2 linked regions of the Homo sapiens genome follow. The protein of the gene in region 1 purifies or fractionates together with the protein of each later gene. This does not show direct contact. Each region holds a gene or a part of one and is shown on either strand. Other genes may lie near its edges.

Region 1 (3,500 bases):
CTAGTGAATGTTAAAACATGAATCTTCCTACTTGGCTCACCTGAGTTAACTCCTCCAGGTTTGCAAAAAGTCTCCATAAATCCACATCTAGGAGATATTCATGAGTTTGCAGATATCTTAGTGTATTCATAAAGATCTTTGAAATAAAAAATATATACACATTAATTTCTGTTTTTTAATTTTGCAACATGCCTTTTGCAAGAACTTTAAACATAAACCTCCTGGGTGTAACTTTACAAAACAATGGAGAAATCAGCACTCTCAAGGTTTAAATGTTATACTCAAGACAAATGGTCACATTTAAGCTTCAAAGAACATATTGGAAATGAGCTTTTCAGTATGAAAGTTGTGGTTGCTTATGTGAATTCTAACAACATTCCTATTGAACATAATCTGTCCAAATGGGCTTCCTCTACTTCTAGTGCCAAAGAAATCCCAAAGATTCTCTTCTTGCCAACAACACTACTAACTTGAGAGCAAAACAATATTCATGGTGTATTCTCATATGCTCTTTCTTCTGCAAAAGACCCAAATATACTTTACTTTCAGGGAATTAAAAGTAGATATTTAATGAGTTAATCTCTGATAACTGGTAAAATGTTTCAGTTTGTTTAGAGGCATTAAACATGGATGAAAACATTGAGGGAGTTTTTATGTTATTTTCACTTAATTTGATGATTTCACAAATTGGAGAACTATACAGCAAGTCAAAAAAAAGTACAATCCTCACTTACAGATAGCCTGCCCTTCATTCTATAAACTGAAGAGAGATCAATTTATTGAAAAAGAAATACTTTGTATACATAAGACAGGAAGCATTCAAAGGGACAAAAGGACAAATTATTTCAAGAATTTTAGGGGTTAAAAGACTGGGCTTTAGATAGATAACCTTCTCCAATTCCTATTCCTGTATTATTTCATTAGTGTAATGAGTGGTTCTTGAACTTGCATCGGAATCACCTGGCAACTTTGTTACACCAGAGCTTGCTGGGCCCCCACCCTCATCTGTGACGGGGTCTGAGAACATGCATTTCCAACAAGTCACCAAGGGATTCTGATGCTGCTGGTCTAGAGGCCACCTGTCAAGAACCACTTAGACCTTTTAAAATCCATGGAGTATTGGTTGTCTGGAAATTTGTCAATATCCAAGCATTTAAAACATGATTGTAAGAAACAGAACTCATTACTACAGATAGATTAGGACAATTTGGAAGAAATACTACTTTTGCTATAAGATTCTTTGCTTTACAGAAATTTTGCTATTTAAAAAAAATACTGAGTCTTCCAGTATATTTATTATATGAGTTACAAATTTTTAATTCATAAGCACTTTTGGAAAACATATTGATTGTGTAAAAGGAAGGTACATATATACTTTAAATACACTGAGGTATTTGACAGTGAGCTCAAATTGGCCTTTTCTTAAACAGGAAATGTCAGTTTGAAAAGCTTGGACAGCTTACAGTGGGATAGAAAGTTCTGTGCAGTTTCTTAGGACAAGGAAGGTGGCATAACTCAGGGGCTTCGTTCTCTGCGGTGAACATTTATTGTTACCACCCCCTGCAATACTCCCCTTCCCTAAAAACAGCATGGTTTTCACCTCAGTGTCTACTCTTCCCCAGGCTGCACATGTGCCATGTGGCAAGCTGATCTCATTCCCAGGGGTGGGCCTTGACTGCCTTAAGCCAATTGGCACATTCCTTCTTTACAGAGCTAGAGGATTTGGCTCACGGGTGGGCACGTGATCTAAGCCAGTCCAATCAGAATAAATCTCAAGACTTCTGCTATGAATGCTGAGAAGATCTCTCTCTCTCTCTGGCCATTAGCTCAAGGATAGCAACCAGGCTGTGACTACAAGAGAAGCCAGCCATAGGATGTGGCTAATGCCATGGAAGGCAGGGTGAGAGATGGGAAGAAATGTTGTTTTGTTTTGTTTTGTTTTGTTTTGAGCCCTTGATCAAACATGCCTTGAATTCTCTCCCACCTCTGAACTTTGCAGTCACATGGACTAATAAAATCCTGTATTATTTAAGCTAGTTTTCTATTACGTGCTCTTGTAAGCATCCTAACTGATATTGTCTCTAAATTTCAGTTTTCTCCTAGAGTGTCTTTGCGGTTCACATTTTGCTAAGTTAAGGATTTAGCACTGTGATTGACAAAAAATATTACTTACAGAAAATAACTGACATTTGTATAGCACTTGATAGATTTCAAAGAAAACTAATTTGATCATCATAATGGTCTTATGAGATAGCCAGGGATGGTATTGTCATTTCTCTTTTACAGCTTAGGACAAGGACTGTCAAAGTATGCAGCCTGTGAGCTTAATCTGGCCTGCCACCTGTTTTTGTAAATGATGTTTTCTGGGTGACAGTCATGCACATTCCTTTAGGCTGCTTTTGTACTGCAATGGCAGAGTTAAGTGGTTGCAACAAAAACTATATAGCCTGAAAAGCCCAAAATATTTACTGTCTGCACCTCTGCAGAAAAGATTTGTCAACCCCTGGTTTAGGGTATGAAGGACTAGACTTTTCTAAGGTCACAAGGCAAAACAGAGGCAGAGCCAGGGCTTGAACTCAGATCTGCCAGCACAGTGCCTTTTGGCTGTGTAAGACAGTCACCAGGATGCAAAAGTGCGGTGGGCAGAGGCAACCTTGGGAGCTGTGTGGCCCATCCTCCCCTGTGGTCCTGGGAGGAAGCTGCTCTATGGTTCTCTTCCTTGCTCTATTGTTCTTCTAGAAAAAATTCTGTGTTCTGAGCCTCACCAGAGCATGGCTGCGACCATAGGGGTGCTATTTACATGAAAGACATCATGAATATACCATGTAATTCAACAGTACTAAATTGCATGTGGGTGGTAGCCCCCTATATCTGCAATGGTGGCCCTGCAGCTGATAAAAAGCATTCACCTGGTACTGTTCACGAGGGAGCAAGAGCTCCGAGAGAGAAAGCCGAGCAAAGATGCAATGGACTGCCTGAGAAGGGTGTAAGCTCCCTGGCTCAGGAGTGTGCAAACTGGTGAGACAAGGCAGAAGAGATTCATTCAACATCGGATGGGACACTGGACTAGTTCACTTAGACGATCTCATCCAATGTTAAAGTATAAAGAGACAGTAGAGTAATAGGTAAACAAAAATAAATGACAAATAAAAATTTTCACGATCCCCTGAAAGAGGGAGAAAAAAGCCTCACCTGGCCTCCCGTTCCCTCTCTTTCCCTTCCTTCCTTCCTTCCTTCCTCCCTCCCTCCCTTCCTCCCTCCTTCCTTCCCTCCCTCTTCTTCTCTTTCTCTCTTTTTCTTTTCTTGTCTTCCTTCCTTTCCTTCCTTCCTTTCTTTCTCTTTGTCTCTCTTTCTCTTTCTTTCTTTTCTCTCTTTCTTTTCTTTATTTCTTTCAGAAGAGGAAAACAAGTGCCCAAAAAAACAAATTAATATTTTCCATCTACTACAAAAATTAAGCCTGGCATTACCATCTTAAGAACTAATAAATGGTCCAAAAAATA
Region 2 (3,947 bases), on another chromosome or scaffold:
TCTATCTATCTATCTATCTATCTGTCTTGAGAGGGACTCTCTGTCACCCAGGCTAAAGTGCTGGAGGGCAATGGCGTGATCTATAGGCTCACTGCAATCTCCGCCTCCTGGGTTCAAGCAATTCTTCCGCCTCAGCCTCCCCAGTAGCTAGGATTACAGGCATTGGCCACCACACCTGGCTATTTTTAGTAGAGACGGGGTTTCTTCATGTTGTCCAGGCTGTTCTAGAACTCCTGGCCTCAAGCGATCTTCCCGCCTAGGCTTCCCAAAATGTTGGGATTGCAGGCGTGAGCCACCACGCCCAGCCCACCACGCCTGTTAATAAGCTATACCCTCACGGACCTGTCATTGGCATTAAATTTGATAATACATTAGAGTATTGTATATGAAGTATACGAAGGCCTGTGCTGAGTGTTCAAGAAGTCAGTCAGTATTATTCTACTTATATTAATAAATGAACTGATGAAATGACAATGGCGAGATCTCGATCTTCAACAATAAGGGAGATGGAAACTGAAGCAAGAAGTGGTCTACAAACCTAGCTCAAATTGTTGAGATTACCGGCCGTGCCCCTTATTCAGATCAACCCCTCCTCGGCTGATCGCCGGCGCGAGCCAGCCTAGGCTCCCGGAAGGTAAACACATCGCCAAGGGCTGGGCAGAAGGCGGGTGTGGGACGGGTGAGTGGCCAGCTAAAAGTGATTGGCAGCTGCCATGTCCACGTGCTCCGAGCTTGGAACCAGCTGTCGCGAGAATTCGATGTAAACAGACCAGTCTCCCTGTCCTCCGGCTCCAACCTGAAACGCTCACGTGAGCGGGACAGGAGTCTGGATCATGTTGCTTTTCTTTTCAAAGCCACGAAGGTTCTGTCTTCCAAAAAAAATGTACATGTTCGTAATTATTCCCCAGCTGCCTGCGTTTGCAACCGAACCTGACACCTCGGCTTCACCCGAACTTACATGCTGTTGTGTTTTCCCTCCAGCCCCAGCGGATTGGACACATTCAGAAGGCGGGTCCGCCTCTTTCCTACTTGCTGGTTGGCGAAGCTGACCTCCAAGGGCGGTGCCCGGCCATAGCCGGTTTGCTTCTGGGATTGGCTAGAGGGGGTGGTTCCGCTGAGGCGTGGTAGGAAGTGGCTGCCGTCAATCACTCGGGGAGACTCCAAACAGTGAGCCTAGAGCTGGAGACTAGCGTTAACCGGCGGGGCGGCCGGTGAGAGGGCTGGCAGGGCTTTGGCTTTGGGGAGGCTTGGGGAGGACGAGGGACTGGCGGCGTGAGGGGACTGGGTCGGGCTGGCAGGAATTCGACAGGAGAGAGGTGTCGATACTGGAGGGGGAGGGGAACAGTGCAAGGGGCCGGAGGGCGGCCGGGGGCAGCGGTGGCTCCGTGTTGGAGGTTAAGTGGGCAGCGCCGTACGAGTGTCTTTCAGGAGACTGGGGCCTGAGTGGCTGGCGAGGGTCGTCCCCAGGAGACAGGGCCCTTAAAGGGCAGGGCTTGGGAGACTGTGGTTCGAGAAAGCAAGAATGGGATGAGAATGAGAGGGCTGAGGGGCTGGAGGTGCAGGTATCCTCTGAGGAGGTGGTGGCTCTGCTCCTTGGGGCAGAGGGTGTTTTGGTTGTAGGAGGTGGGGCGCACAGGTTTAGAGTTTTCACATCAGGTGTGAATGCTCCCTACTTAAAAATGGTTTTCGGTGCCTTCAAGATGAGTTCCAGGTTGTGGGCTTCCCTGAGCCCTGTAAGAGATCTTTGATATTGCTGTCAGTCCTCTTTTAACCTTAACCAAGCCGACTCCATGCTCTTAAAATCTCAGTGATTCAGAGGGTCATGAAACATTCTAGGATCAGGATTTACTGATGTGACGGGAAAGGGTAAAGGGCTGTAACAACGTATTAGTTTATGTTAGTTATTTGACTACTTGCTACTAGTCAAATAATTACTTGACTTATTTGTTATAGTAGCAGGGGGTTACGAATGTGATTTAAATTGTGATTTACTCATAGATTCCCAACAGGTTTAATTGGAAGGTAGAGTGATATCATGTCACTTGTTCCGTTTGGTCTTGAAATATTGTACCATGTGTATTTTCACTATCTCAACATAAAATTGCAGTAAATTCCCATCCCATGATCTGGTTCTCTCACCCTTGTAATTTATGTTAACAACAGACCAAGGGGTACAGCAGGAGTCTTCCTTACATTGTTTTGTGGTTCTGAGACCTGGTCCTATTAAAAAACAAAACAGGATGGGCGCGGTGGCTCAAGCCTATAATCCCAGCACTTTGGGAGGCTAAGGCGGATGGATTGCTTGAGCTCAGGAGTTCGAGACCAGCCTTGGCAACATGGTGAAACCCCGTCGCTACAAAAAAATATAAAATTTAGCTCGGCATGGTGGCGCTCGCCTGTAATCCCAGCTACTCAGGAGGCTGAGGCAGGAGAATTGCTTGAGCCTGGGAGGCGGAGATTGCCATGAGCAGAGATCGTGCCACTGAACTCCAGCCTGGGCGACAGAGCGAGACTCTATCTCAAAAATAATAATAACCCCCCAAACCCCTCATTATAATTTGAAAAAAATTAAAAACCTACTTCCTCCTTTTTTCCCTTTCTGGTGTAACAGGAATTTCTGGGAAAGTTTCCTACATTTGAGGCATTTTTGACAAGGGATCTCTAGTGAGTAATCATAAATCTTCCTCCCTACCCCCAACAACGATCCATGTTTTTCTGTTTTTTGTTTGTTTGTTTGTTCTGGAAACAGGTTTTATGAATGAAGCTATGGCTACAGATTCCCCAAGAAGACCCAGTCGTTGTACTGGTGGAGTTGTGGTTCGCCCCCAGGCTGTCACGTAAGCACATTTCAGATAAACCCAATAGCTGAAGAAAAGATTACTCAGAATACTAACATTTAGGTTTTCTTTATGAACAGTGGTTACTTTTGTAAAAATCTTTTAACTGTTGGCTTTATGGGATGAATAATAATAATTGCCAAGACCAAATGAAGAATTGGAGAGTTAAGTTGACGTATTCAGCACATTTACAGAGTACGTGAAGAGCACTATGCTAAATCCTGAAGAGCAGTGTTTTCAAACTCCAGGTTTAACAAATTAGTGGATTGTTAAATCAGTTTAGTGGGTCAGGAGTTGTAGTAGAAAATGAAATAGAGGCCGGGCGCAGTGGCTCATGCCTGTAATCCCAGCACTTTGGGAGGCCCAGGCAGGCGGATCACGAGATCAGGAGATCGAGACCATCCTGGCTAAAACGGTGAAACCCTGTCTCTACTAAAAATACAAAAAATTAGCCGGGTATGGTGGCCCCTGTAGTCCCAGCTACTCGGGAGGCTGAGTCAGGAGAATGACGTGAACCTGGGAGGTGGAACTTGCAGTGAGCTGAGATCGCGCCACTGCACCCTAGCCTGGGCGACACAGCAAGACTCTGTCTCCAAAAAAAAAAAAAAAAAGAAAGAAAATGAAATAGAATATAATAGAAAATTAGAAAATATAGCTGAGAGTTTGTATTGTTTCATGACATGCACATAAATATGTTCATGTGTATGTATATATTTACCAGACAGTGATGTAAAATGTATCTCTTTTAACTTTTAAGTTCAAGGGTACATGTGCAGGTTTGTTATATAGGGAAACTCATGTCACAGGGGTTTGTTGTACAGATTATTTCATCACCCAGGTATTAAGCATAGTCCCCATTAGTTATTTTTCCTGACCCTCTCCCCGCTCCCACCCAACTCTGATAGGCACCAGTGTGTGGTGTTCCCGTCTATGTATCCATGTGTTATCTATAAAAGGAATCTCTTAGTCTAGGTCTCTGTCAGAAAGTTTCAAAGTAAGTGTCATAGTATATGTCTCTGTTTTTGGCATTCTTTGACAAAGAATGTCTATACTTACTAGAGTGAGTTTATAATCTAATATGGTTTGAAGATATGTATACTTTTTTTTTTT

What was found. Proteins that work in one complex are often made in the same cells at the same time.
Region 2: the proteins of PLEKHG7 (region 1) and BCAS3 purify together in Homo sapiens (affinity purification with mass spectrometry; one large-scale study listed by BioGRID and IntAct). This does not show direct contact.

Annotation. Positions count from the first base shown.
Region 1 is NC_000012.12:92,737,489-92,740,988, reverse strand, and holds part of PLEKHG7 (pleckstrin homology domain-containing family G member 7), read right to left. Parts: coding exon 3,468-3,500; intron 137-3,467; coding exon 41-136; intron 1-40.
Region 2 is NC_000017.11:60,676,704-60,680,650, forward strand, and holds the start of BCAS3 (BCAS3 microtubule associated cell migration factor), read left to right. Parts: upstream 1-1,147; 5' UTR 1,148-1,211; intron 1,212-2,749; 5' UTR 2,750-2,754; coding exon 2,755-2,837; intron 2,838-3,947. UniProt on the Homo sapiens protein: Plays a role in angiogenesis. Participates in the regulation of cell polarity and directional endothelial cell migration by mediating both the activation and recruitment of CDC42 and the reorganization of the actin cytoskeleton at the cell leading edge.